Linked DNA regions of Homo sapiens. The protein of the gene in region 4 interacts with the protein of the main gene of each other region in a pairwise test. Each region holds a gene or a part of one and is shown on either strand. Other genes may lie near its edges.

Evidence for each region.
Region 1: the proteins of POLDIP2 (region 4) and CHCHD2 interact in binary tests that used the Homo sapiens proteins (3 or more experiments, as listed by UniProt).
Region 2: the proteins of POLDIP2 (region 4) and REV1 interact in a two-hybrid assay, tested with the Homo sapiens proteins (one study listed by BioGRID).
Region 3: the proteins of POLDIP2 (region 4) and ALAS1 interact in binary tests that used the Homo sapiens proteins (3 or more experiments, as listed by UniProt).
Region 5: the proteins of POLDIP2 (region 4) and DSCAM interact in a two-hybrid assay, tested with the Homo sapiens proteins (one large-scale study listed by BioGRID and IntAct).
Region 6: the proteins of POLDIP2 (region 4) and PDPK1 interact in a two-hybrid assay, tested with the Homo sapiens proteins (one large-scale study listed by BioGRID and IntAct).
Region 7: the proteins of POLDIP2 (region 4) and MTUS2 interact in binary tests that used the Homo sapiens proteins (3 or more experiments, as listed by UniProt).

The regions. Positions count from the first base shown.
Region 1 is NC_000007.14:56,103,677-56,107,636, forward strand, and holds the start of CHCHD2 (coiled-coil-helix-coiled-coil-helix domain-containing protein 2 isoform 2 precursor), read right to left. Parts: upstream 2,801-3,960; 5' UTR 2,738-2,800; coding exon 2,688-2,737; intron 800-2,687; coding exon 550-799; intron 1-549. UniProt on the Homo sapiens protein: Transcription factor. Binds to the oxygen responsive element of COX4I2 and activates its transcription under hypoxia conditions (4% oxygen), as well as normoxia conditions (20% oxygen).
Region 2 is NC_000002.12:99,441,518-99,445,017, reverse strand, and holds part of REV1 (DNA repair protein REV1), read left to right. Parts: intron 1-2,548; coding exon 2,549-2,701; intron 2,702-3,500. UniProt on the Homo sapiens protein: Deoxycytidyl transferase involved in DNA repair. Transfers a dCMP residue from dCTP to the 3'-end of a DNA primer in a template-dependent reaction.
Region 3 is NC_000003.12:52,208,160-52,211,493, forward strand, and holds part of ALAS1 (5-aminolevulinate synthase, non-specific, mitochondrial isoform 1 precursor), read left to right. Parts: coding exon 1-88; intron 89-3,123; coding exon 3,124-3,334.
Region 4 is NC_000017.11:28,351,028-28,354,527, reverse strand, and holds part of POLDIP2 (polymerase delta-interacting protein 2), read left to right. Parts: coding exon 1-40; intron 41-736; coding exon 737-833; intron 834-1,211; coding exon 1,212-1,287; intron 1,288-1,508; coding exon 1,509-1,616; intron 1,617-2,727; coding exon 2,728-2,864; intron 2,865-3,500. UniProt on the Homo sapiens protein: Involved in DNA damage tolerance by regulating translesion synthesis (TLS) of templates carrying DNA damage lesions such as 8oxoG and abasic sites.
Region 5 is NC_000021.9:40,837,159-40,840,658, reverse strand, and holds part of DSCAM (cell adhesion molecule DSCAM isoform CHD2-42 precursor), read left to right. Parts: intron 1-3,500. UniProt on the Homo sapiens protein: Cell adhesion molecule that plays a role in neuronal self-avoidance. Promotes repulsion between specific neuronal processes of either the same cell or the same subtype of cells.
Region 6 is NC_000016.10:2,555,021-2,558,520, reverse strand, and holds part of PDPK1 (3-phosphoinositide-dependent protein kinase 1), read right to left. Parts: intron 819-3,500; coding exon 558-818; intron 542-557; exon of another isoform or gene 1-541. UniProt on the Homo sapiens protein: Serine/threonine kinase which acts as a master kinase, phosphorylating and activating a subgroup of the AGC family of protein kinases.
Region 7 is NC_000013.11:29,019,339-29,022,838, reverse strand, and holds part of MTUS2 (microtubule-associated tumor suppressor candidate 2), read right to left. Parts: intron 1-3,500. UniProt on the Homo sapiens protein: Binds microtubules. Together with MAPRE1 may target the microtubule depolymerase KIF2C to the plus-end of microtubules. May regulate the dynamics of microtubules at their growing distal tip.

The DNA.
Region 1 (3,960 bases), on a different chromosome or scaffold from region 4:
CAAATAAAGTGGAATTATTATCTTGTTATCAAGACTAAATGGTTTACTGAAGCTTCAGGGAGGAAAAATGGTACTATTATAGAAAACTGGATGGAGCAGTTTCAAGCACACCGGAAATACAAGAGTATACACACCTATGCTCATTAGACTAGAAAGCCCACACACATCAGAAAGATGGGTAATGGCAAACATCACGTAAAAGAACACACAGCTATGCGAGATTTTTGATTTGTTAACTAAGATCAAGACAAGATTAGTAGGAAGTGTCACTGGGATGAAATATTCAAAGGGAAAAGTGGTTGTTTTACAGTGAGTCAAGTGGACTGTTGTAAGTCTCCTCCTTGGGAAGAAACACAATTTGTACAGTACTTGTTGGTGCTGGCCTAAGGCAGTAACTCAACGGCCAAATGTGGCTTTAAAACCCATTGTCTATTAACAGCACAGTGGGTTCTAAAATCAAAGACAATTCCTACACTTAAGGAACTTACAAACGTCTGGCTTTTCTCATAAAATCCACCCATGGAAGGGAAATGCTGCCTAAATTCCCACCTGGTAAGTGATGTCAGGCCTCGCAGGCTCAGCATTACTTCCTCCACTGAAGCCCCCAGTAATGGCGTGACCCAATGTGTGCCCCACAGCAGAGCCCACAGCCACGCCAGCTGCAGTGGTTGCCATCTGGGCCATCAGACCTGGCTGCCGGGGCGCAGCAGCAGAAGAGCCAACTGCAGATGGGGGTGCCGCTGCTGGTGGCTGAGCGACTGGTGCTGGCCTGGGTGCAGCTCTCATCTGAGGGGCCCGGCTGTGAAAGAAAAGAAAAAAACATCAAGTTCCCAATTCCAACCAGTTTTGGAAATTGTCAACTTAAAATAACTTACATATTAAAATGGACCTCAAGATTTTCATTTCAAATTATTTACATCATTTTCTCTCTTCAATTTTTTTTTTTTTGAGATGGAGCTTCGCTCTTGTTGCCCAGGCTGGAGTGCAATGGTGCAATCTCAGCTCACTGCAACCTCCACCTCCCAGACTCAAGCGATTCTCTTGCCTCAGCCTTCCGAGTAGCTGGGATTACAGGCACCCGCGACCACCTCCGGCTAATTTTTTGTATTTTTAGTTGAGACGAGGTTTCACTATGGTGACCATGGCTGGTCTCCAGCTCCTGACCTCAGGTGATCCACCCGCCTCGGACTCCCAAAGTGCTGGGATTACAGGTGTGAACCACCACGCACGGCCTAATTTTTTTTTTTTTTTTGAGACAGGGCCTCACTCTGATGCCCAGACTGGAGTGCAGTGTCACGATCCAATCTCACTGCAACCTCTGCCTCCTGGGTTCAACCGATTCTTCTGCCTCCGCTTCCCAAGTAGCTGGGATTACAGGCGCGCACCACCACACCTAGCTAATTTTTGTATTTCTAGTAGAGACGGAGTTTCACCATGTTGGCCAGGCTCGTCTCGAACTCCTGACCTCAAGTGATCCACCCGCCTCGACCTCCCAAAGTGTTGGGATTACAGGCATGAGCCACCACGCCCGGCCACTTTAATCTTTTCTTATAATAGTAATAGCCTAGGACATACTAGTTTTTTCTGCTTCTTTGCAACAATTTCCATGTATTCGGATAGCCCACAGTATCTTTAAAGACATATCCAACATGTCATAAGAAATACAGACTACTAAAAGTTAGAAAGATTCTTACAGGATTCATTCATTCAAGTATTAGGTAACTACAAGGCGCTGGTAATGTAACTGTGAACAAGAGACAAAAATCTCTGCATTCATGGAGTTTACATTTTATTGACGGATCAAATAATTAACATAGGCTGCGGAGTGGTGGCTCTTGCCTGTAATCCCAGTGATTAGGGAAGTGGAGGCGAAAGGATCATTTGAGGCCAGGACTTTGAGACCAGCCAGGGCCACATAATGAGACCCTGTCTCTGCTAAAATATAAAATAGAATAAAGTCGCCAAGTGTGGTGCACAGGTGGCGCATGCCTGTAGTCCCAGTTACTCTGGAGGCTGACGTGGTAGAATAGCTTGAGCCCAGGAAGTCAAGGCTGCAGTTAGCCATAATTACGTCACTGCACTACAGCCTGAGTTAGACTCTGACTCAAAATATAAATAAATAAACATTCTAATTAGGACTTAAAGATGGTCAACTGGGGAAATAATCTAGTCCAATTCCTTCATTTTACACATTACAAAACAAGACTGGCCAAAGTGACTCGTCTGAACTATTATACCAAAAGCAACTTCAACTATTCCTCATCTGTTCAACGTTCAGATGCTTTCAACAATTTCGAGACCCCTTCTCAAATAACAAAAGACTAATTATGTCCTGCACGTATTTAAAAATCTTCATATGTATCACGCTCCCTCTGACCATTTCCGGATTATTTCCTTGGGTGCTCTTTTCCCCGAAATCAAGCTAGGTCAAAATTTATGCCTTCCTACCACCTGGCCATAACGTTATGCCTTTCCCGTTGTTTGGATAGGAAGCTTTTTCCGTAAGTGAATTCCCTCCCCACACTCCCCTAACATAGGCTTTACGTTCAATCTACCCCCGCCTGGCAGAGGCGAGCCCACGCCGCAGCCGACCTTAGTTCACCCCCGCCCGCGGCCTCCCTCTGCGTCATTGCCCCAGTAGAGTCCGGACGGCCGCGCTTTGGTCTCAAACCCTGCGATGGTCTCACCTGGCCGGAGGGGCCATGCGGGAGGTGCGGCTTCGGCTTCCACGCGGCATCCTAGGTAAGCGACGGCTAGGCCTCCGGACGTGGGACAACCACCGAAGAGCTAAGCGACTTCTGAGGAGACCGGAAGATGGGAGGCGGGGCTGGCCTCAACGCGCAACCAACCAGCACACAGGCAGAGAACTTCCGTTCTCCGTCGTCTCCGCAGGCCTGAAGTTCATTGGAAGAGCAGGACGTCACGGGGACGCCTCGTCCTTCGCGGTCAACGCCCTGAACTTGGCGCCAGGATCTTTAAAACCCGGAAGTTCCTGTGGTTCATCCGCGAACCTTGTCCTCCGGTCCTCGCATCAGAGCACTTAGCATTTTGCTTCCCTAGGGCAGCTGGCCTGTCGCTCCGTCCTTCAAACATTTGTATTAAATCCAACCTTAAGAGTGACTCACATCTCTGGCTGGATTGCCAGGGGACCTTGGGCAGATTTCTTAGCCTTTCTGAGCATTCAGTTATAAGGGCAAATATTTTTGGAGGCACAGTGTGGACGCGTAGTATGAACTGAATGAAAGAAATCGGTTTCGTCAAAAATAAACAGAGTTGAATTAGTTGTATTTGGTATTTCTCTTTCTTGTCTGTGGATCCAGTCAGCAAAAGTTAAATTCAGGCAGCAATAATGTTTTACATTTATGTATTACTATATATTTTCAGCTCCTTTTCATATGTATTATAGAATTTGTGTCCAGAATTGGGACAGTAACCATACACTGGTAAATTCAACAAAAATTTACTGTCTAACTGGGTTATGGAGATACTGCACCAAATCAGATAAGATTCTACCTTCACGAAGTTAAGTTTCAAGGAGGGGAGACACAAACGCCTACGTAAATCAGGTGGTGGTGACATGAAAAGAGAGGAAGGAGACTGGAAATTAGAGGTTAGGCGGGGCGGGGGGGAGTCATTTGAACGGAGCCCTTGAAGAGGTGGGGAAGCAAGCCATGTGTTTATGAAGATAAGAACACTACAGGAAGAGAGAACAGCAATTGCAAAGGCCCCAAGGATCTGTGCTTTAGTGATACTTGGTGTGAAATGCTTTTTTTTTTTTTTTGAGACGGAGTCTGGCTCTGTCGCCCAGGCTGGAGTGCAGTGGCGCGTTCTCAGCTCACTGCAGCCTCCGCCTCCCGGATTCAAGCGATTCTCCTGCCTCAGCCTTCCGAGTAGTTGGGATTACAGGCGCACGTCAACCCGCCTGGCTAATTTTTTATTTTAGTAGAAACAGGGTTTCGC
Region 2 (3,500 bases), on a different chromosome or scaffold from region 4:
ATGTATATATCAGAATATAGTTTCAATGTACATGAAAAAACTCAGTGTATAAGGAAACCGTGTAGTATTATCTTTTGGATAAAGATGGATTTTTTTATTATCCTCTCCTTTTGGTTTTGAAAGAATAGTAGAAAATGTCAGTACAGTTCCTTTGCGCTTAGAACAAGAGGGGAAATAGTAAATGTGAGAAATTAATCCCAGAGAGATTTTTAAAAAGGTCTTATACAAATATGCTTTCAGATAATGTTTCTGTCTATATATCTATAGATAGATAAATGGGCAAGCAGGGGTAGTTAGGAGTATACAACTGATAGATAGTGGTTTAGGCTTCAAATTATAACTGACATTACTTCACTAACATTACTGTAGTGCATTGGGCTTTAATTCTTTTTATTGAGTATCTCTGAGGATATCTGATTTGAGACTTGCAGTATTTAAATTGGCTGTCTAATTTTGTAGCAGTCTCCATGGACTGACTTATGTAAGCCTAAGAATTCTGTGGGTGGCCACATGGCTCTTGTTAGGAGCTGGATAAGGCCTGACACCCTTGTATATGATCAGTGCTGACCATAGAGAGTACCTGTAGAGTCTGCATCACTCCAGCATGCTGTCAGTAGGGCAGGAAAAGCGAGAATGATCATAGGGCGTTTTGTTCCTTGCACTTTTGGTTTTACCTGAGATGTGCAGCTGGCACAGTGGGTGTAGTTTCACTCTCTACTTGTCTCTTAGTTATAGCTATCTATGATAAAGGATGGAAAGCTAAGGTTAGGATTTTATTTCAGGTATTAAGTAGCTGTACTTCTTTTGGTGGGGGAAGCAAGTGAGTTTGATATACATAATACCACAGAACAAAGATTTATAGTTAGGCAATTGAGACCAACTATTAAAGGAAGAAAAGGGCTGGGCGCGGTGGCTCACACCTGTAATCCCAGCACTTTGGGAGGCAGAGGCGGGTGGATCACGAGGTCAGGAGATCGAGACCATCCTGGCTAACACGGTGAAACCCCGTCTCTACTAAAAAAATACAAAAAATTAGCCGGGCGTGGTGGCAGGCGCCTGTAGTCCCAGCTACTCGGGAAGCTGAGGCAGGAGAATGGCGTGAAGCCGAGATCGCGCCACTGCACTCCAGCCTGGGCGACAGAGCGAGACTCCGTCTCAAAAAAAAAAAAGGAAGAAAAGTTGGTTTGAGGAAGAATAAAGTAAAAAATAGTCGAATTTTAGGGTTTCGATTCTAATATTTGAATGTAACCTGAAATTTTGAATGTATTTTGAATGTAACCTGAATTTTGGTAAAACATTTAGCCTGGTCATAAATCCATTTGGTTACATGTCTTGCGACTAGTATAGTATGTTCTTTACCATCATAATTTAATAGTTATAGCATTTGATATAGGTTAAGGTACTTTAGGTAGAATTGTTAAATATATATTGACATAATTATATAAAGGACATACTCTGTATCATATATAGTTCCGTTTTTAGAATCTGTTAGTATGTTTTCCTGTATTCCAAGTTGTTGACTCAGTTATTTTTAATTAGTATTCTGTAAGCCAATTCAGTCATTTCTTAAATGATTATTTTTTAAAAAGTTTTGTGTGACACCATTTAAGAAAATGAAAATGTCAAGTCTTGGATTTATGAGACAATAAGAAACATATTTTTATCATGTTATTTATCAGTCTTTTTCTAAATAACTGAGGGATGATTCCTTGGTATATATTTTAGGTTTAAAATCCAGAGGTTGTTTTGAAATATTTTCTAATATTAAAGTAGCTTGTTTTGAAATTTGGATGATAGCATAAGTATATTGATTGGTTATTTTTAAATTTGAAGTGAAATGATAATTTTAAAGGTAGAGTAGCCATATATAACTCAGTTTATTAGCAAGAAAATGTCAGTTTTAGATACTGCAATCAAATTAGTTTTAGTTCTGAAGTACAAAAGGAAGCAGACATTTGGGAACTTCAGTTACAGTGCTAGTACCACCTAGCGTTAGAACACTGGTGTTCCCCTGGATTTGAGTGGTGTTGTGTGATATGCTGTGAGGATGTACATGGTAGTTTTGGCCCTTGTAGAGTTCATATCTTCAAATGGCCTTGGCTCTTAACCATTCTTGTATACATAAAAATAGTATAAATTATTACTCTTGAAGTTGAGATTCTTTATTTTGTCCTATATTTTTATTTTACAGTTTCTGACATGAATTTGGAAATTGAGCATCCTTATTCAGTTTATTTATCTTGGAAAACCTTAATAGATGAGATTTTGATGAAGTCTTGATGATTCTCTGTTAACTGTTGACAGGGTGGTAAATACTAAAGTCATGAGGTTTAAAATATTGACTAGTTCAGCTCTGTGCTTGCAGTTTTTCCCCACTCTAAGATCATATTGTATTAGGACCACTAAAACCGAGCAAGAAGGAATAAACTAGGAAAACAGATGACCTGTTGTTGGTGAAATACTGTATCTTTAAGGACATTGAATATTTTTCATGAAGCTCATTGTCACCAAGTATGGAACTCTAAATTGGTGTTGCTTTTTGTTTCAGCATCAAAGCTGGACGACTCCTCTCCTACATTCCATATCAGCTGTACACCAAGCAGTCCAGTGTGCAGAAAGGTCTCAGCTTTAATCCTGTATGCAGACCTGAGGATCCTCTGCCAGGTCCAAGCAATATAGCCAAACAGCTCAACAACAGGGTGTAAGTTTGTCTAGTTGGGGATTACTGCAAAGCTGGTTGGTTTTTTTTTTTTTTTTTTTTTTTTGAGATGGAGTTTTGCTCTTGTTGCCGAGGCTGGAGTGCAATGGTATGATCTCGGCTCATTGCAACCTCTGCCTCCCAGGTTCAAGTGATTCTCCTGCCTCAGCCTCCCGAGTAGCTAGGCTTACAGGCGTGTGCCACCACGCCTGGCTAATTTTTGTATTTTTAGTAGAGACGGGGTTTCACCATCTTGGCCAGGCTGGTCTCGAACTCCTGGCCTTGTGATCTACCTTCCTTGGCCTCCCAAAGTGCTGGGGTTACAGGCATGAGCCACCACGCCTGGCCACAAAGCTGGTTTTTAGCAGTGAGCATGGCCCCTGCTCTGTTACAGTCAGACAGAAGCAGATACAAACCCTGGCCATTCACTTATAATAAACATGTTGAAATATGTGTGTATGAGTGTCTTATCTAAAAATGAATTATTTTTATAATGATAATTTCATAAATGTAAGTAAGTTTTTACAGTCATACTGGTTTCTCACCTTAAACTAGTGGATCTTAATTGTTAATAAGTTTTTTCATGGATTTTTATGAAAGTAATTATTTCCTCACAAGTAATTTGCTGTATTGCTTTCTCAAAAATGGAACTAACTGCACCAGCTATATTTTTGTTGTGTTCCATGCATAGAAAGACAATGAAAATGTTAATATTTCTGGGTTATTTTTGAAAAATTCAAAATTCATAACATTCTAAATATGTAAATATATAAATGGAAGTTTAGTTGGTGACCCTTGGTTA
Region 3 (3,334 bases), on a different chromosome or scaffold from region 4:
GCAGTGGGGCTTTATGGGGCTCGAGGCGGAGGGATTGGGGATCGGGATGGAGTCATGCCAAAAATGGACATCATTTCTGGAACACTTGGTATGTATACATTGTATTACATACACTAAAATTCCATTATCCTAACAAGGCCAAGGACTAACTAGTCTAACTGGGATCAGGTGAGGAGACAGCCTGACAGCATATGAAGCCTGGGCCACTCTTTCTTTTGGCCCAGCTTAGTGGAATCCCTTGGGTCATGGAGGCATGGCTCTTAGAATCAAAGTAAATCCCACAGCCTAACACACTGATAGACCATTTATTGCTATCTGAGCTCATTTCAGACATAGTTGTGGGTCTAGCCCCATGCCATGGCAAGAGCCTGTACTCTCTGTGCCTCAGGCTGTTCTTAATTAAAAAGAAAAAGGAATTCTAGTACTTTTCTCCTGGAGCACTTGTTAGGTTCAGGTGTTGTGAAGTGCTGAACTCCGTGCCTGCCACGTGGGAACATTCTAATTCATCCTGGTTTTCCTCTGCTCTTCCTCATACAGAGGCTATGTCTCGTGGTAGATGGGAGCTAGACTTTGGAGCCCTGCCACCTCACTAGTTGTGTGACCTTGAGTTGGTAGTTAACCTTTCTATACCTCAGTTTCATCATCAATATAATGGAGAAAACAATAGGACCTAAATCAAAATATATGTGGAGAAGGTAAATAAGTTGTATGCAAACAGTTATTATAAACATTCCCTCTGAGAACCTATGAGAACCCTAAAGAGACGAAAATTACATAAATTTGAAGAATTTTTGTAATTTTGAAGAATTTTTTTAAGCCTTCAGAAGTGGGTAAGGCAGTTGGAAACCCATCTAGCAGTTAGCTAAAATGCCAGTTTATAGCCTATGCTTGGTAAAGGAAGGGCAGGCTTTTTAAAAAGCGTCCTTCAGCACTGTCAAGGGGTATGAGAACCTAGTGCAGACCCAGAAAGCCTGGGAGTTCTAAGGGTGGAACCACTACCAGGAGAAAAACACCTGATCATGTGTCTTAATTCAAGAAGCTCTTTTCTTTTTTTTCTTTTTTTTCCGAGATGGAGTGTCACTCTGTTGCCCAGGCTGGAGTGCAGTGGCGCGATCTCAGCTCACTGCAAGCTCCACCTCCCAGGTTCATGCCATTCTACTGCCTCAGCCTCCCAAGTAGCTGGGACTACAGGCACCCGCCACCATGCCTGGCTAATTTTTTGTATTTGTAGTAGAGACGGGGTTTCACCGTGTTAGCCAGAATGTTCTCAATCTCCTGACCACGTGATCTGCCCGCCTCAGCCTCCCAAAGTGCTGGGATTACAGGCGTGAGCCACCACACCCGGCCAGAAGCTCTTTTCTTTTAAGGATGTCTCCTGATGTGGGCTCTTTGAAGGTATGGTCATTGTGAGATGGAAAAGGCTGGAGAGAGAAACTTTATACCATAGGAGATTGAACCAACCCAGCTTTGCATGTGGTTTTAGCAAAAACATTAATTATAGAATGTTATGTTAAGATCTATGAAGACTCTTCTGGAGTTCTTTTTGTTTTTTGAGACAGGCTCTCACTCTGTGCCCAGGTGTGATCACAGCTCATCTGCAGCCTCCACCTCCTGGGCTCAAGTGATCCTCCCACCTCAACCTCCTGAATAACTGAGACTACAGGTGTGCGCTAGCATGCCTGGCTAATTTTTGTATTTTTAGTAGAAACGGGGTTTCACCATGTTGGCCAGGCTGGTCTCTAACTCCTGAGCTCAAGTGATTTGCCCCCCTCGGCCTCCCAAAGTTCTGGGACTATAGGTGTGAGCCACTGCACCTGGCCTCTTCTGGAGTTTTTAATCCTGAAACTTGAGATGTAGATCACACAAAAGGACTCAATGAGAATTGAAAACCAAGTCTGGCCCTAAATCAATCCTAATGCATTAATTGTCAAGAGTTTTGTTCTTAAGTAGGAAATAACACCAGTCATACCAAAACAGTTAATGCCTTAGCTGGGTAAAATTCCAGCCTCTGGGATAATGTTCCCTGTGGGAGGATGGTACAAGCACTGCAGAGCCAGTCTTGTTCCAAAGAGCACATGCAGTGCAGACATGGGGAGTGGAGCTGTGCTGGCTGTCAGAGCAGCAAGCCTGGGTGAGAAAGGGAAAGGAGAATAAGATGGTGGGAAGGGAGGCAGCAGCAGGGTATTTGGGCACACTGGGACCAGTCACTGAGGTGTCAGGTCTGATTGGAAGACCTGCATTTTGATCCTGGTTAGACACCAGCTTGGCCATATGACTTTGGGCAAGACCCTTTTGTAACTTTCCTTAGCTTTTTTACCCTTTTAAAAGTGAGTAGCCAGGCACGATAGCTCACACCTGAATCCCAGCACTTTGGGAGGCTGAGACAGGAGGATCACTTGAACCCAGGAGTTTGAGACCAGCCCTGGGCAACGAAGCATGGCCTCCTCTCTACACAAAATAAAAATTTAAAAAATCAGCCAGGCATGGTGGTGTACACCTGTCCTAGCTACTTGGGAGGCTGAGGCGGAAGGAATACTTGAGCCCAGGAGGTTGAGGCTGCAGAGAGCTATGATCATGCCACTGCACTCCAGCCTGGGTGACAGAGCAAGACCCTGTCTCTAAAAAAAAAAGGAAGATTAGATATCCTTTTATAGTCATGCATTGCTTAACGATGGGGGATGTGTTCTGAGAATTGCATCACTAGGCGATTTCATCATTGTGCAAACACCATAGAGTGTACTTACATAAACCTAGATTATATAGCCTACCGCACACCTAGGCTTTGTGGTATGGCGTGTTGCTCCTAGGCTGCAAACCTGTACAACATGTTACTGTATTGGATACTGTTGGCAACACCATGGTATTTGTGTATCTAAACATACCTAAACATAGAAAAGGTACAGTAAAAATACAGTATTATAATCTTATGGGACCACCATCATATATGTGGTCGTCATTGACTGAGACATCATTAATGTGGTGCATGACTACTCCAATCAGTCCAGGAACAAATTAAAAAGATAAGGAGAAAAGTCAGTGCTTTGAGGCTCCACAACACCTTGCTGTGTCCATTTAGAGCAATTTACAGCTGTTGCTGTAATTAATGAAGCTATCTCCTCCCAGGCAAAGCCTTTGGTTGTGTTGGAGGGTACATCGCCAGCACGAGTTCTCTGATTGACACCGTACGGTCCTATGCTGCTGGCTTCATCTTCACCACCTCTCTGCCACCCATGCTGCTGGCTGGAGCCCTGGAGTCTGTGCGGATCCTGAAGAGCGCTGAGGGACGGGTGCTTCGCCGCCAGCACCAGCGCAACGTCAAACTCATGAGACAGAT
Region 4 (3,500 bases):
GACTGTATGACCGGGATGTGGCTTCTGCAGCTCCAGAAAAGTAAGTTTCCCTGTGGTTGTGCCTCACAGTATCCTCAGGAGGAGATGGCAGACATATGTAATTGGGGTACTAGGGGTGAAGACAGCGTCCTCCTAGGCCTTGGAAACATCCCCAGAGTACTTCTCTGGGACTAAGACCCATGGAGACAAAAGTGCTGAGTGCCAGGGATAGTCTAAGTCAGAGAGTCCCTTTAGGCCTCCTCAGAATGCTTTCCTAAGCCATTCCTAATTTTCATTATGAGTATCCCAGAGGGCATTTGGGGGACAAGTCTTCTTGATTTCTTGATGTTCAGCTGGAGTCTTTCCCTCAATCTCACATCATCCCTAGAATACATTAAAACAGAAAAGGTTCAGCCCCATTAAGTGATCACAGACAGTCCCTGGGATATAAGAAGACAAGAGTACTCTGGGCCCTGGGGACTGAGGTGGCAATTTGATTTTCTCAACATGGCCCCCTTCTTTTAAGAGGTATCCACACGGTCAGATGATGGCTCCATACCATGGTCTTCCATGCTCTATTATTTGCCCCAACTGAGGAGCAGCTGAGCTGAGGTGCTGCAGAGCAGGTGTCCAGCTGGTGCTAAAGCCCCTTTAGATCAGAGACCAGCCTGTTTAGGTGAGGAGGAGTAGGGAGCTGAGTCAGCCACAGCTTCCATTTCTCCTGGGGTGATCTTGGCCTCCTTCTCCCACCCCATAGAGCAGAGAACCCTGCTGGCCATGGCTCCAAGGAGGTGAAAGGCAAAACTCACACTTACTATCAGGTGCTGATTGATGCTCGTGACTGCCCACATATAGTAAGTAAGCAAGATGGCTGGGCTTGGGGGTCCTCTCCATGGAAAGTCCTGCATCCCAATGGGGACAAAGGGAGGGAAGGGGGTCAAACAGAGCCCAGGTCAGTCTTGGTCCCCAAGGCCTTGGACTGCACAGTGGCCAACAAAGCCCTGATTCACGTCTTTTTTTTTTTTTTTGATATGGAGTCTCACTCTGTCGCCAGGCTGGAGTGCAGTGGTGAGATCTCAGCTCACTGCAACCTCTGCCTCCCGGGTTCAAGTGATTCTCCTGCCTCAGCCACCCGAGTAGCTGGGATTACAGGCATCTGCCACCACACCAGCCTAATTTTTGTACTTTTTAGCAGAGACATGGTTTCACCACTGATTCACTTCTTGCCTTAGTCTCAGAGATCTCAGACAGAAGCTGTGACCTTCTTGGCTAACCATGATGACAGTCGGGCCCTCTATGCCATCCCAGGTGAGTAGTTAGCATTTGAATGGTGCCCGTCAAGAAGGAGTCTGGTGTGTCTCAGGGAGAGGATTCTGATGTCCTGTCATCCACTGGGAGGGATTATGATGCTGAGAGGTATGATATCAGGGTTATCCCATACTGGAACAAGGCCAGTTAATGTTTCTTCTCAACCCCATCTCTCTCCTCTCCTGTGAGTTTCACCACTGTCTTTTGCATCTCTGTGCCAGGCTTGGACTATGTCAGCCATGAAGACATCCTCCCCTACACCTCCACTGATCAGGTTCCCATCCAACATGAACTCTTTGAAAGATTTCTTCTGTATGACCAGACAAAAGGTAATCTCTCTCAAGAAGGGGAGGTGGAATGGGAGGGCCTTTTCATCAAAGAATATCATAGAAATAATTCCAGGGCCGGGCACGGTGGCTCACGCCTGTAATCCCAGCACTTTGGGAGGCCCAGGCAGGTGGATCATCTGAGGTCAGGAGTTCAAGACTGGCCTGGCCAACCTGGTGAAACCCTGTCTCTACTAAAAATACAAAAATTAGCTGGGCGTGGTGGTGGGCGCCTGTAATCCCAGCTACCTGGGAGGCTGAGGCAGGAGAATCACTTGAACCCAGGAGGGTGGAGGTTGCAGTGAGCCGAGATTGCACCATTGCATTCCAGCCTGGGCAACAGAGCGAGACTCCATCTCAGGAAAAAAAAAAAAAAAGGCCCGGGTGCTTGTGGCTCACGCCTATAACTCCAGCACTTTGGGAGGCTGACACGGGCAGATCACTAGGTCAAGAGATCAAGACCATCGTGGCCAATGTGGTGAAACCCTGTTTCTACTAAAAATATAAAAATTAGCTGGGTGTGGTGGCGTGCACCTGTAGTCTCAGCTACTTGGGAGGCTGAGGCTGAAGAATTGCTTGAACCCGGGAGGCACAGGTTGTAGTGAGCTGAGATCATGCCACCGCACTCCATCCCGGCAACAGATCAAGACTCCGTCTCCAAAAAAAAAAAAAAAAAAGAAATAATTCCAACGCTCTATTTCCACAACCCTTTTCAACCTCCTGTTAGAGCTGTCATGCCTCATAGGTGTCATACCTGACAGATGACAGATGGCAGTTATTTCCTTACAGATATGGAAACTGAGGATCAGGGATGATGACAAGGGACTCAAGGTTGCTAGTAGCAGAGTGAGGGCTGAAAACCAGGGCTCTTAACTGCCAGTCCGATTGTTTTCCCATTGTATCACACTAGCTCCTCAGGGCTTATTCTTGGTAGCAGTCCTGTGCCTTCTTCCAGCCTGAACTTTTGCTTCATGTATGAGCACCTTGTTTGCCTGGGCCACCACTAGGGAGGGTTTTCTAGGAGGGGCAATCGCACTGGACTATTGTGTGATTGGACTAGATACAATTGTATCCACAACACACAATTGGACTAACCAATTGTATCTTGCCCCAGCACCTCCTTTTGTGGCTCGGGAGACGCTAAGGGCCTGGCAAGAGAAGAATCACCCCTGGCTGGAGCTCTCCGATGTTCATCGGGAAACAACTGAGAACATACGTGTCACTGTCATCCCCTTCTACATGGGCATGAGGGTATGTGGCCAGCCTGGACCCCTTCTAGCAGGGGTAGGCCCCAAGGTGTATGGTGTCCTTAAGGTGACTGCCGGGGGAAGGGAGTCTAAATATAAACCATGTCCCTGTGGTTCTGCTTCCAAGTGGTGGCATGTGTTGGGTGGGGTTGAGTAGCCTCTAGACAGTGGCTGACACCAAGACCTAGAGCGGGCAGGAAAACTCATAGGTCCCAGGAAGGAATCCTTTATCCTGTCTCTTCCCTCTTGCTCAAAGGGAGCCATGTTTATGAAGAATATACACATAATTATTTAAAGCAGTGTAGGCATAACACTTTTTACACATTATAGACACTTACACATCGCCTGGCTGTAAGCATGTGCAGTGGTAGGGGCCGCCCAACTCCACAGACAGAAGCTATAGGTCAGAAAAGTACGTATAGTCAGTGCATGCTTGGATACAAATATAAATGAAACACCGTCCCTGTCTTCCAGGACCTTATAGTAGTGGAGGAGGCCAACTTAAAGTATTATAGCAAGGGACAGTAATGGGAGACAGGAGGAGGACAGGGGCTCAGGGCAGCAAGGATAGGGGGCAGGGCTGGTGAGGAGGGCAGTGAAAAAGGTAAGAGCCCTGTAACTGATTTCTGTTGGCATCCAG
Region 5 (3,500 bases), on a different chromosome or scaffold from region 4:
TTTTCTTCTCTTTTCAAAAAGAGATTCATATTTCGAGTATCTGATGGGACTTCATCACTGTTGCACAACAGCTATGTAATTGCTTTAGGTGCTCTTCCTGCCGTGCAGTGGGTCAAGTGTCACAGACAATAATTTCATCCATGTGCTGGACCCCTTGTTCTCAAGTGTACGCTGCTAAATGGCATGATTTAAAATTCCTATACAGTGTTTATTGCCCTGTCGCATTTTGAAAGCCAGCCAGAAACATCAAACCGACATTTAGGTTCCCCGCCCACTCCGCCACCCCCAGCTCTTGGGAATTCATTTCTTCATCAAAGAGCCACCCAGGACATCAAAACAAAGCTTACTTTCTCAGGCCTTAATTCATCTTTAAAAAGTCATACTACTGTTTTCTTCAGCATCCTATGGATTTATGGGTTTTTTGTCATTATCTTTATTTCTTATTTTGCAGATTCAAATATGACAGTTGCTATCTTCATCAAAGTAACATGAAAGGATATCTTAATCATTGTTAAAGTTGATTTTTGTCCAAATATAAAAATCAAATTAAGTGTCTTATAGCTTACAATATTTATCAGCTTTTGATTTTTGGACATCTCTATTTGTTCTATGTGATCAACGCTGATTTTTTAAAAATCATGCAACTGGATTAATTTTTGATCTTGAAGCCCCCTGGATTATGTAAATACATATTATGGTTTAACAGAGAGGGATGAATGGGATTGAGAAGATATATGTCAAGATATGAAGAAGGAAAGAGGCTACTACACAGAGAGTTAGAATGACAGGGATTAATGAATCTTGCCTGTATCCCTAGTTATTTTTTTTACTGAGAAGACAGTGAGTAAGATTTAAGAGTGAGCAAGCAGTCCTATTTATAGAAAGCTGTTTTTAAGTGCAGCCGCAAAGACAGTGAAAGAAAGAATTGAAAATGCAAGAGATCACCTCCATACTAAATGCTAGCTTCCCCTAACGTCCCAGCTCTGTACAGCATTTTGTAGGAGAAAAAAACAAAAAAAAAAGCATACCAACCCTTGCAGAAATATTATGAAATCTCTTTGGACTCTCTGCAGAATATTCTAGAAGTGCTCTCAGTCTTTAAGTCTATGTTAGGCTTGGGAAGCTGGGGATGAGAAGGCAATATATATATTATCTGGAAACAGCTTGAGTAGGTCTGAACAAAAGACTGGAGGTGAAGGGAGGACATTGAACTTGCAGCACTGCTACAAATATTTATTCTGCAATAAGCCTTGCCTTTCTTAAAGATGTTTCACGGCAGAATAGTAGGAGGGTGAAATCTGCATACATCTCAGTAATAAAGCAATTACTGAGAGAAGAGTTCAAATTTAGGATCCTGTGATTATCACAAGTCCCTCCATGTTAACCTGTTCTCAAACTCTGGGGTTTTAAATTGCAATATATGAAGTCCTTATTTGTCAGTCTGTGTCGGGCAGACAATATCACCCCAGGCTTTGTGATTGACACAAATGTTATTGGACAAGGGAAAAAGAATGCCACATGCTCTTATAAATGAAATAGTCTTTATAAGATTCCATATATAAGTGAGATCATGGATTTTGTATGTGTGTGTCTGGCATATATCACTTAGCTAATGTCCCCCAGGTTCCTTAAGTATATACAATTTAGCATAAAAAAAGAAATGAAATAGTTTTCCTTTCTAGGCCTGTATTTGTTACTTATAGCATTCTGGTTTTCCTGGTTCCAAGTGGGCTTTGGGTTTTATTAATAGTAGAATCGTTGAATTTTTATGCAAATACTGCTGATTTACAGGTTGGAAATCTGGACAAAATCAGACCTGCCCTAGAAGATGATGCTGTGGAAAGTGTTTGCCTTTTGTCTTATAAAGAACCATCTATAAAATGGATCATTTTGTCGCTAGTCTCTCCAGACTATGAAATTGGCATTTTGATAAGGTGATGGAAAGAAATTTGAACTATTTAATTACTGATTTTGATTCATACAAGCCTTGACTCTTTTAGTATTAAAATGAAGAAACAGGAAACAGTTTTAAGTCTGGTTTTACATAAAATTTACACTTTTTTCACACTGAAAATAAAACAGTAAAAGCCAGCTTATAGTTCTTTCTAAATATCCCAACTTTCTCATTATTGGATGCTTCTGCAAAACAGCAGTATGGTGATACCACTCCCAGTGTTGACCTTGATGACCTGAGGGTCCCAAAGTGGCTTCAGCATTATCATGGAGTCACCACAATGATCAGGTAGAAGCTGGTGTTAGGACCAGCGTGAATGGGTCACAGGGGCTGAGGGGGGCTGTTGGGAGGTAGCCCATGCCGTATACTGAAGAGCCATCCATGCCACTTCAGGTGGGTGATTGCAGTGGACTCTCTTACCATTGATTAATCTTCCTAATATTGAGTAAAGCATTGATTCTTCTCATAAGCATGAACTGCTGGATGATGGGAACATTTCTGTGATTGTATCATAAGAGAAAGACAAGTAGAAAGATAATTAGAACTGCTGCAATTCTATGTATATTTTAATTTAATTTATTTTTTTAAATACAAAAGACAGCTATATTTCCTATATAATAAGGAAACTTATTACTTTAAGGAAATATACTTTCTCACGAGAGAAACTCAAGATTCAATTCTTTTCACAGTTAGCCCCGCTGTGGTGTGATTTGATCTTGGGTTCCATAGAGATACAGAAAATCCAAGTCCCAGTCTGCTTAATTGCCATGTTTATTTTTTAATCTCGGCTGTAGAGCATTTTTAATAACTGATATGTAGCTTGCAGGGTAGAAATAACAATGCTTTGGAATATTACCTGTGAGACTTTAGGAATGAGCTGAAGACACCCAACAATGACAACAATGGCCTCTACCAGCAAAACGGGAACCATGACTACTTTATCACTCCTGCCGGATCTAGTTCTTGTCAGTTCCTGCAAAGGCTAGTCACTTGTCTATTTCGTTGGCTAGTGAAAAGGAAATGCACAAGAAATGTGGAATGCTGTCTAACAGACAGAATCCTCCTTTCACAAGTTGTTTAAGTTGGCAGCCCAAGTTAGCAACCTCTATCCGGGTCCTTAACGTGACAGCAGAATGTGGGTAGGATGGTTAATTACCAGATGTGTCTGTTATGACTCACCCAAATCAATAGCTATTAAATCCTTGGTGGCTACTGTTTTAGAATAGGCTTCATTGAATATTTGTATAGAAATCTGGGTAGAAAAATGTGGACCTCGAGGTGATCTAGGTATTTGTTTTGGGCAAGGAACTCTCATCAGTGGTTGGTTTATTTGTGTCTTGGGGGATCTCACATCATCAGCCTTTATTAATCACAGGCACGAGGGGCCCCACACTCTCCCCCATACCTCTACCGCCCCATTGCTGAGGATGGGAGAGTAAGAATATAGAATATGCTGTAGGCTTCTGTGGGATTAGATGCTTGGAGGCAGCGGAGGCAAATGTTCATGGGAACACTGAATATGGAGGAAGAGGCTGTGCCAGCCCCA
Region 6 (3,500 bases), on a different chromosome or scaffold from region 4:
TGACTTGACAGTACTGCGACAATACTCCTGTTTGTGAAACTCGGAACACAAGACTCTGGAGGCTGTGTCTCCAGCAAATGTCCAGAGCGTACTGTTTTATGTATTCAAAAAAACAAAACAGAGAAATAAGAAGAGGTCAATAAATGTCCCCAAAAACCCTGGAGAGATACTAACTTTCAATCTAAGAAAAAGAACAGCTTCCCAGGGCCCTGCCAGTGAGACACAAGGACACAGAATGTAACTTGCTGATGCCAGGTTAAAATGAAATTAACTACATCAGAAAAAACCTCCGCAGACCATCAAGAGATGTGTCTAACGTTCTCATCTACAAAACCAGGTTAAATATTTAGCCACACTCATCACGTCATCTGCTTGGGGGGTACCCAGCCCCCAAAGACTCAAGTGGCCTTCACAACAGGTGACACCCCTCAAGGGGCCTGAGACCTCCTGCCTGGAAGGACACCAGCCTTGCTTGGAGTCTCCGGCAAGCCCCGAGGAAGGTGAGCCTCCCCAAGGAAATCACGTACGTTTGACACACAGCAGCAGCAAATACTCACCGTGGAAAAAGAGCCTTCCCCAAGGATTTTCCCAAACTTGAAGTCCTCAGGCCGCTTCTTCCGAGGCTGCGGCGGAGGCTGGGCATGCTGCAGGGAGCCGGCGCCGGGCCGAGGCTCGGCTGCAGTGCCGTCCATGGCGGGGCCCTGCCTGCTGCCACCAGGAATGCCAGGGGGCGTGCTGGACTCAGTCTGGGTCCTCACCATTGATGGGGATGGGCAGGAACATAACACCACGCTGGACTGGATGGGCACGGCGTCATACTAGGCGACAAAGAGGAAAAGGAAGTAAGGCTCAAGGCAGCTGCCTTGCTCTCAATGCACGGACTAAGGTTTAAGGACCTCATTTCAACGCTCAAAAACAAACCCCAAGCACAGGGCAGGCCAGCTGAGCCCCGCGGTCTGCTGTGAGCTGCCGGCCTCCTCTCCTGAGTCCTGCCCGTGCCATGGCTCCCCGCTAATCCACCAGGCAGCGCCTCGCCCTCCTCCTGTCCCTCGCGCTGCCTGAGCCTCCAGCCAACTCATCCCAAGGCCAAGGTAACCTGAGCAGAGATAGCACGGCACATCTTTAATTGTGGGGGGGATGGAGAGATAAGAGTGATGATCGCATGTGTTTACAATACACAGAGACGCCCAGTGCTGGCAAGACTATAATAAAGCGAGCGCACTCACACCACTGCGGCTGGCACCAAAAACCGGGATTGCAGTGGAAATGTTTTTGGAAAGCAGTTTGGCAACTGTCAACAAAGCGACTACAGAACAGTTGTCAATGAGACACAGAAATACGAAGGAGAGGAGGGAGGGCAGAAACCCAGTTAACAATGTAAGCGGGCACGGAGGGAAGATCAGCGTGCAAAGCTAGGTCGGCAAGACGTGCAAGGTGCACCCACAGCCATAACAATCCCTCCCCAGACCCCAACGTGTCCTCACGGTGGTGGCAGTGGCCCCCCGCACTACAGAAGAACAATGCGAGGCGAGCTCAGGCGCGCTGATGGTGGTTTCCGATACAACTCCCCACTCAAAGAACCCCGGAGAGCTCTTGATTCCATCTCTCAGTAGGGTCCTGAAGTCCATGCTGTCTGAAGACACAGGGTCTCCCCCTGCGTCTGTGCCAGGACAGAGGGACTGCCACCAGCCAAGCTGCAATCCTTTTAAACGCTAAAAACGGCCGGGCTTGGTGGCTCATGCCTGTAGTCCCAGCAGTTTGGGTGGATGAGGCGGGTGGATCCCCTGCGGTCGGGAGTTCAAGATCAGCCTGACCAACACGAATAAACCCCTTCTCTACTAAAAATACAAAATTAGGCCGGGCACAGTGGCTCAGGCCTGTAATCCCAGCACTTTGGGAGGCAGAGGCGGGAGGATCACCTGAGGTCAGGAGTTCGAGACCAGCCTGACCACATGGAGAAATCCCGTCTCTACTAAAAATACAAAAAAACTAGCCGGGCTTGTTGGCGCATGCCTGTAATGCCAGCTACTTGGGAGGCTGAGGCAGGAGAATCGCTTCAACCTGCAAGGCAGAGGTTGCAGTGAGCTGATAGCATGCCATTGCACTCCAGCCTAGGCAACAAGAGTGAAATTTCGTCTCAAAAAAAAAAAAAAAAAAAAAAAATAGGCCGGGCGCAGAGGCCAAAGTGGGTGGATCACTTCAGCCCATGAGTTCAAGACCAGCCTGGGCAAACACAGCAAAACCTCACCTCTACTAAAAATATAAAAATTAACCAGGTACGGTGGCATGTGCCTGTCGTCGCAGTTAATTGGGAGGCTGAGGTAGGAGGATTACCTAAGCCCGGGGAGGTCGAGGCTGCAATGAGCCAAGATCACATCACTGCACTCCAGCCTGGACGACAGAGGGAGATCCTGCCTCAAAAATAAAAAATAATAAGTAAATAAATAAAAAGAATATATTCACTATTTTGCTTATCAAAGTCTCTTAAAGGAGGTGACTTACCTACGCTATGGACCCAATTACTCAGCCAATAAGAGGACACGGTCCCTGCCCATAGAAAGCTGATGTCCAGCCTGACCTCAATACAAAACCATCCAGTTAAAGTGGTGGGGGTGGCTATGCAGAGACGGGCGGGTGCCGGGAGAGTCAAGGGCAGCCCCTTGGCTGGCCAGGGGCTCAGACAGACCAGCTGGGGAGATGCATCACTCGCCCAGGAAAACTGATGACAGCTTAGATGGCACTGCAAGAGCAGGGAGGATCACACTCATGTCCAGAAAGTGAAACATAAAACAGCTAAACATGTACCACACAGCTTTCATACAAAAATTTTATATACACAAATTTTGAAAAAATAGAGATGGGGTTTTGCTTGTTGTCCCGGCTGGTTTCGAACTCCTGAACTCAAGTGATCTGCCTGCCTCAGCTTCCCAAAGTGATGCAATTACAGGCATGTGCCACCATGCCTGGTGACTTTTTTTCTGTTTTGAGACGGGGTCTCACTCTGTCTCCCAGGCTGGAGTTCAGTGGCATGATCATAGCTCACTGCAGTCTCGACCTCCTAGGCTCAAGTGATCCTCCCACCTCAGCCTCCTGAGTAGTGGGACCACAGGTGTGCACCACCGTGTCCAGCTAATTTTTGTAGAGATGGGGTCTCATCATGCTGCCCAGGCTGGTCTCAAACTCCAGGGCTCGAGTGATCCGCCATCCTTGGCCTCCCAAAGTGCTGGATTACAGACCTGAGCCACCACACCAGGCTGCCCCACACATTGTAAAGTTTCGCTTCCCTCTAATGTCAGATTCCAAAGACAGCAGCCTTCATGAGTCAGAAAGAAACATCGGTCATTTTGAAATCAACATCCAACTGAAGTGTAGAAAGGCCTCTGGATTTTTGAAACGGCAACAACAGATGATGTAATACAAAGACGCCCCCACCCCACTGCTTTCCCACTGCATGCTTTACATGACATGGCACAGCTTCCACGCCAGCAGCTTCAATCATG
Region 7 (3,500 bases), on a different chromosome or scaffold from region 4:
ACACAGGATATGCTTTTCTGTTAAAGTAGACTCACAGATCACCACTAAACCATTCTATTCAAGGTTGACATTGTTTCATCCACTATTATGAGTGCATTTTATTAGGCACTGGGGATAGGGGATTTTAACAGCAACAAGGTTCTGCCCCGTCACCAATTCCCCCAATGGAGACTTGAAGCCTTCCACACTTTCCTCCTCATTCATCAAGAATGTGCAAGCACACGTGCACACCACATGTGAGGCTACTGTTATGTTTCTCCTGAAACAGGTTACATGGCAACGTGGCCACCCACTTGTTTTCCCTTTATCCCTGTTAATATGTTGTTTCATATATTAAAAAGAATATGAGGGCTGGACACAGTAGCTCACACCTGTAATCCCAACGCTTTGGGAGCCTGAGGTGGGAGGATCACTTGAGGTCAGCCTTGGCAACACAGCAAAACCCTATCTCTATTTAATAAAATGTATATGTTACAAAGCAAAATAATATAACACGTGACAGCCCATCACCCAACCCAAGGACACCTTGCAGCCATCCTCATGCTCCTCCTCACTGAAGCCCTCTGTGTTTCCAACTTAGAGATCTCTTTTCTTTTGCGTCTATACATAAGCATGTAAACTTTTTTACATACATAAGATCATTTCCTATAAGCTGGTTTTTGTTCCATTTTTTAAAATTTGCCTCTTCTAGCCCATACCCCAAGACACATTAACATCTAGATCTTTCCATTTCTTTCCCCATGTTTGCATGATCATGGGAAAATACAGAGTCATACATGTGCATGTGCGCTTGCATTTCCGTACCACACTGCTCTTCTGTTCTTTCCACGACTCCCTCACTGTCCTCATCCTCCCCGCTCTCATGCTTTTTCTCCTTCTCCATCTTCTACCAGCCTTATCTCCACTAAGCCAGTAGCACCCCCTGGTGCAGCCTGACCCCAATATAGCCCTCAACCAAGTTGCTCATACCCTGATCACAGTCTTCATTTCCTGACACAGAGGGGATTCTCAACAAACCCTTGTGTCTTTGTTTATTCAATTTTAAAAGCGTTTCCCTTGAAGATACACATGTTCTCTAAGCACAAATACAAAAAGCATGTAGGCAAATCAATAAGATCACAGTTTAAAAGAATGCTGTGCTCTCTGGGATGAGAAACGGGTATCTTGCAAAGTCAAGAAGGGCAAGAAAGTTCATAAATATAGGCCATCCACAGAAGGGAACTGCCTCTAATTTTCTGTGGGCAGAAGTATAAATATGCAGCCAAGAGCCCTCTTCGGTTTGAATTGTTGAAGCTGGGAGAAAGAAAGAAACTTTGCTCAGCAGAGACAAACAAAAACAAAGTACCAAAGTCCACAACATGTAACATGATTGCAAGAAAGTGACAAAGAAATATAAAACCAATGTCATGCTAGAAAGAGTTGTATTTTAATTTTTAAGGAACTACATCATAAATGTTCTTTATCTTTGTCAGTAAACAACTGGTACTCACTGGTAAGGGGACAGAAAGAAAGGTGGAACCTCCTAGGGGCCCAGTATTTTCTCAGCCATTATACAAATTTGTTTAAAAAATTGAGACAGTATCTCATTCTGTTGCCGAGGCTGGAGTGCAGTAGCACGTTCATAGCTCACCACAACCATGAGCTCCTGGGCTCAAGAGATCCTCCTGGGTCAGCCTCCCAAGCAGCTGGCACTCCAGGTGCACACCACCACATCTGGCTAATTTTTTAATTTTTTGTAGAGATAGGGTCTCGATACATTGACCAGACTAGTCTCAAACTCCTGGCCTCAAGTGATCCTCCTATCTTGGCCTCCCAAAGTGCCAGTATTACAGGCATGAGTCACAGCACCTGGCCTAAAATTTAATTTTAAATTAAAATTACACAATTACAAGTCTTTAATATTCAATTTTAATTTAAGTTAGGACACTTAATAATATTTATAGCAGGCCTCCAGAGACAGGTCTTCACATCCCCTTGCTTTTTTTTTTTTCCCACGTCCTGGTAAGGAAATGAAAGCACAGAGAAGGTAACATTCCCAAGGTCACACAGCTCATGAGTGGCAGAGCTGGGACACATTTAGAAAGCAGAAGCTGTAAAGAAGAAAAGCTGCCCATGAATGGAATCATACACCACACAGGAAGAACAAAAGGAAAACAAACTATTGTAAGAACAAGAATAGAAAAACAAAACCAGAAACCAACACGTGGAAGTTCACATAAGACAGGAAAAGCAAATTTAAAAACTTTCTTCAATTTTATCAGGCAAAATTATATACAGGAAGTCATGTTTCCTGTCAGCTTCCCTCCTCCTTATGTGGCCTCACGCGTCTCCCTCACTCCAGCTCCCTCATCCTGCCATAAGACAGCGGCAAAGTAAACACAAACACGAATTTCTGTCCGGATCTAAATTTCAATCCAAGGCCTTCTACTAAGATAAACGTTTTCACAGAATATATAACATGATCACAGAAGTTCAAACTTGTACATAATACAAGACTGTGTGTGATTAAATAAAATATGCAAATAGGTCAACCAATGGTACAAACCCCTAGTTGAGGTGCATTTTCCCAGAGTGAGACATGTAACTTTCATATGCCTCAGATCTATTATTACAAAAAGTTAACAATAATGGCCTTAGAAGTAATTGATATTTTATCTTGAAAAAAATCAATTAGTTCAGTACTAGTTTGAAAGGAATGTAAAGATCTAGGCTTATAACCTACCTGATGCTTAAGAGTCTTCTAAGTGGCTTCCCCTGGTTCTAGGGCCAGAAAACTCACCACACATCTGGGCAGGGTCTCTGTTGGCAAGCTCTGCCTCTCTACAGCAGAATGATGCAATTCTTCCACCAGATGACCTTTCAGGTATTTACAAAGAGCTATATGCTCCCTTCCTCCCAAAACCTATTCTACTCCTTGTCAAAGAACTCAGATTCTCCCAACTGTGGGATTAGCTTTTGAAAACTCCCACCATCCAAACAGCTTTCCTCTAAGTACACCGTGTAGCACCAGGGAACCTGAAGTCCCTCCTAAACAAGGTGACCAGAGCTATGCACAATACTTCAATTCTAACTGCACCATCTAGAGTCATAAGAAAGCAAGCCTTCCATTCTCTTCTACTTCTAACCACGCATTCTAAGAATGACCTCCTCATGGACATATAAATCACCCTCTAGTTCCACATCATTAATTAAAACACCAAAGTACCATATAAGTTGTCCTAAACTCCACTGACCCAATCCGAGACATTTGTAACTGGTTTTAGCACCCATGGGTGGGATCATAAAAATATACTTCTCAAACATCACCTTGCTGGTCTCAATGCATCGTTCTATCCTTTTAAAACTTGTGGAGCCCATCCTTAATTTTTCATCGAAAATATCTGCAATCCATTCTTGTTCCCATACTATCGTGGAAAAGCTAAGAGTTCCTTCTACATTATCATTCATTGATAATCCACTGATAAATCACTCACTGGTGTCATTCATCGACACCAATGTTA